Linked DNA regions of Homo sapiens: region 1 is linked to region 2. The links come from fine-mapping of genetic effects on gene expression. Tissue or cell type: whole blood. Region 2 holds a variant in brackets; the other region holds the start of a gene. All regions are shown on one strand. Distances are from middle to middle.

What was found. PIP is the estimated chance that this variant, and not a neighbour inherited with it, causes the effect.
Region 1: USP30-AS1 starts here. The variant in region 2 is fine-mapped to the expression of USP30-AS1 in whole blood (TOPMed, PIP 0.94).

The regions. Positions count from the first base shown.
Region 1 is chr12:109,052,251-109,056,492 of GRCh38, reverse strand. It overlaps USP30-AS1 (USP30 antisense RNA 1), which reads left to right and starts at 2,528. Exons shown (of 2, transcript NR_038996.1): 1 at 2,528-2,807; 2 at 3,755-4,242. It overlaps USP30 (ubiquitin specific peptidase 30), which reads right to left and starts at 3,917. Exons shown (of 13, transcript NM_032663.5): 1 at 3,732-3,917. The coding sequence starts at 3,814. RefSeq lists enhancers at 2,521-2,890, 3,224-3,723.
Region 2 is chr12:109,073,238-109,077,479 of GRCh38, reverse strand. USP30 (ubiquitin specific peptidase 30) reads right to left here. Exons shown (of 13, transcript NM_032663.5): 7 at 3,948-4,042. Among named protein-coding and RNA genes, the nearest start is that of ALKBH2, 18 kb to the left of the region's middle. The variant C/T (reference allele first, on the strand shown) is at 2,130.

The sequences.
Region 1 (4,242 bases), 21 kb after region 2:
AGCTGGGCACGGTGGCTCATCCCTGTAATCCCAGCACTTTGGGAAGTCAAGGCAGGAGGATCCTTTGAACCCCAGAGTTTGAGATCAGCCTGGGCAACATGTGGAAACCCTGTCTCTACTAAAAACACAAAAATTAGCTGGCCGTGGTGATGTGCACCTGTAATCCCAGCTACTCGGGAGGCTGAGGCAGGAGAATCACTTGAATCTGGGAGGCAGAGTTTGCACAGAGCTGAGATCGTGCCATTGCACTCCAGCCCAGGTGACAGAGAAAGACTCAGTCTCATAAAAAACAACAACAACAACAACAACAACAACAAAAACTAAGTCAAATCATCACATTCCAAAGGCTACTTCTCACTCTGAGGAAAAACTGAAGTTATTTTCCTTTTCTGCCTCTCACTCCACTTCCACATGGAACGTTACCAGCCAATGCTCTGACCTCAAGGCGTTTGCACTGCTGTTCCCTCTGCTCAGAATGCTCTTCCCCCAGATCACTGCTTGGCTCACTCCTTTACCTCCCTTCGCTTCTCAAGAGGCCTACCTGAACATATCAGTGGGACCTGTCCTTGTCCCCTTGACATGTTTCTACTTTTTCTTTTTACCATAGAACTTAACCACCTTCTAACATAAAATTAACCTATTCGCTATGTTTTTTTTCTTTTCTTTTTTTTTTTTTTAATGCACTGGGTTTGTTGTCTGTCTCCCTCAACTGGCATGTGCTTTGTTTTACCCACTAATGAGCTCAAGTGTCTAGATCATACTTAGCACATAGTAGGTTCTCAATAATATTTATTGAGGCCAGGTGTGATGGCTCATGCCTGTAATCCCAGCACTTTGGGAGGCCGAGGTGGGCGGATCACCTGAGGTCAGTGGGAGACCAGCCTGGCCAACACGGTGAAACCCTGTCTCTACTAAAAATACAAAAATTAGCTGGGTGTGGTGGCAGGTGCCTGTAATCCCAGCTACTCTGGAGGCCGAGGCAGAATGGCTTGAGTCCAAGAGGCGGAGGTTACAGTGAGCCCAGATTGCGCCACTGCACTCCAGCCTGGGTGACTGAGCGAGACTCTGCCTCAAAAAAAAAAAAAAAAAAAATATATATATATATATATATATGTATATATATGTGTGTGTGTATATATATATAAAATATTTATTGAATGACTGAATACTGGAGAAAATATACAGAAATGAATTTCTCTTTTAGAATATTAGACAGGGAAGGGGCACACATACAATGGTATAAAAGAGCTGAATATTTATAAAATTAAAGATTTCCTAACTTCAGGCTTGACTTGAACGCTGGTTATGCTTTTGCTACATATTAAGAAATTTCCCCAACAATTTAAAACATTGTTTTTATACAAAGTTATATATTTCTACAAAATAAGACAAACCATCTATGTGTATATAGCTATGTAATGTGTATCTGCATATATGTTACACATGCATACATACGTGTTTGTGTGTGTGTGTGTGTAATACATTATTATCCCAGTATTTGGATCATGTGAATATTGTTTTGATTTCAGTTCAGTAAACATTAACTTGGTGAAGAGTCACTGGTGGTAATATTGACCCTGTTTTATAATAATCAGCATTTCTTAGTATCATAGCTGATAGCTGAATTTCAGATAAATATTTGTTTTCCAAGACAGAGTCAACAGAATATGCACCAAACTTGGTTAAGAAAGTGGGATTACCTTATTCTGGTTCAATCCTGGCTTTGCTATTTCATTTGGCATCACTTCACCTTCTAAGCCTCAGTTTCCTCATCTGTACAATGGGGACAATCCATAAGACCTACCTCATAGGGCTGTTGTGAGGATTAAATAAGTGTGAATGCATACAGTACATAGTAAGAACTTAATAAATGTTAGCTGCTACAAATTAAGCATTACAATCTCAGGATCATTCATGAAAGCTATTCTTTCTTTTTTTCTTATTTTTATTTTTATTTTTTTTTGAGACAGTGTCTTGCTCTAGTTGCTCTAGTGCCCAGGCTGGAGTGCAGTGGTGCCATCTCAGCTCAACACAATCTTCACCTTCCGGGCTCAGGTGATCCTCCTGCCTCAGCCTCCCAAGTAGCTGGGACCACAGCTGCACACCACATGCCCAGGTAATTTTTAAATTTTTTTGTAGAGACAGGGTCTCACTACATTGCCCAGGCTGGTCTCGAACTCCTGAGCTCAAGAAATCCACCTGCCTCAGCCTTCCAAAGAGCTGGGATTACAGGTGTGAGCCACCATGCCCAGCTGGTGAAAGGTATTCTTGAAGTTTCTTAATACATCACTGTGCTTTTACACGATACGTGAGTTCACAAAAGTGCCTGGAAAGATTATAAAGGACTGTCATGGAAGTGCTAAGGTGCTTTACCAGTGCTTTAAAATCCCCTAATCAAACACTAATATTTAAGGGTACATACTCTCTGCCAGGCCCTGTGACAATCTTACCTCATTTTTAAAACAACCCCACAGATGCAGGTTCTACTATCACTTTCATTTTTATAGCAGAAGAAACTAAGAGCCCAACTTGGTCACAGTGAGTGAAGGAACATGGCTCTGAATCATGCCTGTCTGTCTCCCCAGGTCTGTGCTTAAAACCACGAAGTTCAAGATGGAAACTGAAGGGAAGAGTGTCAAGGGGATGGGAGAGAGGACTTGTCCATGACTTTGGCAGCATAAGGAAAAAATACCCAGGGACAAGTGGCGACTTTGGAAACTCCATTCCTCTGCAAAATGACATCACGAGGAGAGTGGTGGGGCCTGCGGATGAAAAGATCTGGCTTCTCCTCCCAACTCTGCTATGAGGTCAGCTATGGGGCCACACTTCCTATCTACGGAATGGGGGCACTGGACAGGATAAGTATCGAGGACTTTCAGCCCTGGGATAATAAGCTCTTTAAACCTGCTCCAGTTCCAGAGGAAGCCGACCTGAGCAACAGGTCTCAGTCATTTGGGGTCAGCAGTGGGGGAGGGGGTACTCAGTTCTGAAGCCTGGAGCCCTTGGGAGGGTGAATAAGAGGGAAATGGGGGCCCTGACAGGATTGGGGACCCAGGCAATCGAGGAGTCCTAACAAGAACGGAGGGCTTTAACAGGACCAAGCAACCTTAACAGGTTAAAGGGGCCCTGACCAATTTAGAGACCCTTGCAAAACAAGGGCCTTTACTCACACTAACAACATCAGGGACCCAGACAGAAGTGGCGATCCATATTAGACTAGAGGGCGGGCTAACAGGAATAGGGGGCGGTACTAACAAAACGCGGGGCTCGCAGGCCCGGGGCACTTATAGGACTAGAAGAACCGTGCCAAGGTTGGGGAACCCTGGCAGTCCAGAAACTGATATGATTGGGGGACCCAGAAGGACTGGGGGTATACTAGAAGGATTGAGGGGTCTTGGCAGGCCTAGGAGGCACTGAAAGGACTGAGGGCACTGACAGAATTAGGGGCCTTGACAAGACTGGAGTGCCCCGGGTGTCCTGGGAACAATGACAGGAGGGGGAGGGACTGACAGACCTGGGGAGTGCAGACAGAATTGGTGTTGCCGAAGGACTGGAGCCCGTCAGTCCTCCCACCTACGGGCCCAGGCCTCCAACCCTAAAGGACGCAGAACCTTCCAGAATGCCCGCGCGGGCCCTGGAGACCCCAACTAGGGCATGAAAAAGCCGTCACGGGCCCAAGCTGGGGACCCTGGTCCCGGCCTCTTCGGCAGCCCCGCCCCCCAAAATCTCACCTGACGGCCGCCCCGGTCCGCAGGAAGCGCTGGATGGCCCTGTCGGCCGCGGTCATCGCCGCCTCGGCCCGGGAGCTCAGCATTGCAGCCGCACCGGAGGCCTGAAACCGTCTCCTCCGCTACCGCCGCCGCCGCCGCCGGACCGAGGGATACGACGGTTCCCGAGACAGCGGAACCTGCGGCCGCAGTCCCAGCACCTCGGGGGAACGTAGACCGCAGGACAGCTCCCAGGGGGACCGGAAGTAGCTGCCCCCGGAGAGCAATAGCTGACGGACCACGTCCTTTCTTTCTTTTCCCTTAGCAACAGGCCCCGGCGTCGGTTGCTACGCTGGGCTCAGTTGCCTGGGGCTGCTTGGTTTTCAGATTTGCTTAGGCTCCATTCATAAATACAGATGGCACACTTCTAGGATGGACCCTGGGTCATGATTTGAATTTTTCGATGTGGGGAAGGGAGGCCAACAGCCGAAAGTCGGGTCAGGCCTCTGCTATAATTAGTTATTATTGTGGCCAG
Region 2 (4,242 bases):
TTCAAATAGACTTCAAGTCAAGGAGTCTTAGCAGAGATGAAGAGGGACAATTTATCATGACAAGATGAGTTAACTCATCATAATACATATGCTTGTATCCAATAACAAAGTTTAAAAAAAATTAGCAGAAATAGAGCTAAAGAAAAGACAAATTTTAGCAAACAAGCAAGAAATAATACCAATATTAAACAAAATCTTTCAGTAAACAGAGGAAGGAACATTTTCCAGCCTATTTTATGAGGCTAGTATAATCCTTATAACAAAGCCTGACAAAGACATCACAAGAGAAGAAAAGTGTAAGAACAATATTCCTCATAAACACAGATACTAATATCCTTTAGGAAATATTAGCAAATCAAATTCAATAATATATAAAAACAATAAAGCATCATGATCAAGTGGGGTTTATCCCAGAAAGGTTGGTTTAACATTAGAAAAATCAATCACTGGCTGGGCACAGTGGCTCATGCCTGTAATCCCAGCACTTTGAGAGGCTGAGGCAGGCGGATCACGAGGTCAGGAGATCGAGACCATCCTGGCTAACACGGTGAAACCCTGTCTCTACTAAAAAATACAAAAAATTAGCCGGGCGTGGTGGCGGGCGCCTGTAGTCCCAGCTACTCGGGAGGCTGAGGCAGGAGAATGGCGTGAACCTGGGAGGTGGAGCTTGCAGTGAGCCGAGATCACGCCACTGCACTCCAGCCTGGGCGACAGAGCAAGACTCCGTCTCAAAAAAAAAAAAAAAAAGAAAAAATCAATCACTGTAATTCACCAAGTCAACAGAATAAGACTAAAATATGATCATTTCAATGGATGCAGAAAAAACTGACAAAATCCAATCACTATTCATTACAAAAATTCTCAGCAAACTAGGAACAGAAGGGAAGTTTGTCAGTATGATAAAGAGGTATACTAAAACCTAAAGCTAATATCATACTTAATTATAAAACACCAAATACTTGCTTCAGAAGATTTGAAACAAAGCAAAGATGTCTGCCATCATCACTCTTATTTAACTTTGTACCATAAGTCTTAGCCAGGATAATAAGGCAAAGAAAAAAAAAAAAAAGGAATAAAGATTGGGTTGGAAAGGAAGAACTAAAACTATTTCTATTCATAAGCAACATGACTGTTTGCATACACAGAGAATGCTAAGGAATACATAACAAAACTTCTACAGCTTCTAGAAGTAATAAATGAATGTTTACAAAAATCTCAAGATATAAGGTCAATATATAAACAGCTGTATGTCTATATACTAGTGGCAAACAATTTGAAAATAAATTTTTTTAAATTCCACTTACAATAGTATCAAAATAATGCACGGAAAAAAGAGATGAATAGTCAACTTATAGATTACAGTTCCTTAACATATCTTACATATCTTTTAATATATGAACCTTATTTTTAAAAAGACCATTCAACATATTAGTCTTCAAGGTAATGTCACTCAGAACCGCAATGACACAGCAAATGAAACAATCAACAAAATGAAAAGGCAACATATGGAATGAAAGAAAATATTAGCAAACCATATATCTGATAAGAGGTTAATATCCAAAATTGAATACTTGAAATACACTAAAAGAGTGTTTATAAGGAACTCATATGGACCAACAGCAAAAAAAAAAAAAAAAAGAAAAAGTAACATGATTAAAAAATGGGCAAAGGAGCTGAACAGACACTTTGCAAAAAAAAGACATACAAATGGCCAGTGGGTATATGAAAAGGCACTCAATATCACTAATCATCAGGGAAATGCAAATAAAACCATAAAGAGCTATCACCGCACACCTGTTAGGATGGCTATTACCAAAATGACAGCATGTGGTCAGGCACAGTGGCTCATGCCTTAATCCCAGCACTTTGGGAGGCCGAGACAGGCGGATCACTTGAGGTTGGGAGTTCAAGACCAGCCTGGCCAATATGGTGAAACCCGATCTCTACTAAAAATACAAAAGATTAGCTGGGTGTGTTGGCGGGTGCCTGTAATCCCAGCTACTTGGGAGACTGTGGTGGGAGAATTGCTTGAACCCAAGAGACGGAGGTTGCAGTGAGCCAAGATGGCACCACTGCACTCTAGTTTGGGTGCAGCAGAGCGAGACTCTGTCTGAAAAAAAAAGACAGCA[C/T]GTAACAAGTGTTGCCGAGGGTGTGGAGAGAAGGCAACTCTTGCATACTGTTGGTGGGAATGTAAATGGAAAACAGTATGAAGGTTCCTCAAAAAGTTAAGAATAGAACTATTATATGAACTAGCAATGCCACTCCTAGGTATATATCCAGAGGAAATGAAATCAGTATCTCAAAGATACATCTGCAAAACAATCTTCATTGTAGCATTATTCACAATAGCCAAGATATGGAATGTCCACAGACAGATGAATGAGAAAATGTGGTATACACATATAATGGAATATTATTCAGCCATCAAAAAGGAAGTCCTACCATCTGTGACAACATGGATGAACCTGGAGGACATCTGCTATGTGAAATAAGCCAGATATAGAAAGATAAACACCACCTGATCTCATACCTATATGGAATCTAGAAAAGTCAAACTCACAGAAGCAGAGTACATGCTGGCTGCCAGGGGCTGGGGAGGTGGGGAGATGTTGCTCAAAGATGCAAACCTTCAGTTATAAGACGAATAAGTTCTGGAGAGTTAACGTACAGCATGGTGACTACAGTTAATAATACTGTATTGTATTCTTGAAATATACTAAGAGAGTGTTCTCACCACATATGAGCACAGGTGCACGTGCACACACACACACACAGTCATACATCAAATCTTCACTTTGTACACCCTAAATATATACAATTTTTATTGTCGATTAGATCTCAATAAAACTGGGGGAAAAAGCCACAGTGAGATACTACTTTGCACTCAGTAGGATGGCTAGAACCTCAATGTTAGACAGGACCTAGAGAGTGGGCTGACATCAAAATGTGGGTGAGGCTGTGAAGAAATTGGAACCCCTCATACACTGCCGGTGGGAATGAAAAATGGCATAGCCACTTTGGAAAACAGTCTGGCAGTTCCTTAAAAGGTTAAACAAAAGAGTTACCATATAAGCTAGCAATTCTACTCTGAGGTATATACCCAACTGAAGTGAAAATATATGTCCACACAAAAACTTGTATGTAAATGTTCACAGCAACATTATTCATAATGGCCAAAAAGTGTTAACAATCCAAATGCCCATCAACTGATGAATGGATAAAAATGTTGTAGATCCATGTAATGCAATATTATTTGGTAATAAAAGGAACAAAGTACTGATTCATGCCAAAATATGGAAGAAACGTGGAAATATTATGCTAAATGAAAGAAGCCAGACACAAAAAGCCACACATTACATGATTCCATTTATATGAAGCATCCAGAATATGCAAATCCATAGAGACAGAGGTAGATTCATGGTTGACAAGGGTAGGGTGATGGAAAGGATGGGGAGAGGTTGCTAATGAGTATGGAGTTTCTTTAGGGGGCAATGAAAATGTTATAAAGTTGACTGATCCCGGAGTCAGTAATGGCTGTGAAAAAATAAAATAAAATAAAATGGATTGGGGTGACAGTTGTACAATTCTCTCTTTTTGTATGATGTTGGAAATTTTCCATAATAAAATATTATTTTAAAACCTCAAAAGTAAAGGGGAAAAAACCAGCCCTAGAATCTACTGTGTCCACCATGAGCATAGACTCAACCACTGGACTCAAGAGCCTGCCAATCCACAGTGGGTCTGTTGTCCTTGGTGCAGAAGATGCCATCTGACCTCAAATGACATGCTGACACTGACCAAAGTGGGGTAGTCAGTCCACTAGTGTGCAGAGGCCAGGTAGTCTCTAACACCAGTGACCGATGTCAGCCCACTCTCTAGGTCCTTTCAAGAATCCTAACTTTTGGAAAACCTCTCCCGGAAATATCAAGTGTTGGTATTGTATTTACCTGGTGTTCACAGTGTTTGCAGACCATATTACTAGTGAGTCTTCCATGAAAAGGATGTTGAGACTTCCAGTGATTGGATGTAGGGTGAGGTGACCCTGGAATGCAAAAAGTTTTTTGATATGTCACTTTTAGCCCTTTGGCACCAAGCTCAACATTCATCTTCCTTTCTAGCATGTGGTAGAAACTACCTCTTAAGAAAAAATATTCTTGAAAAGTACATTGAAATAGCTTTCCTCATTGACTTCCATCCAAAAGACATCCCATTCCTTCATAGGAGAATTTACACAGATCTATC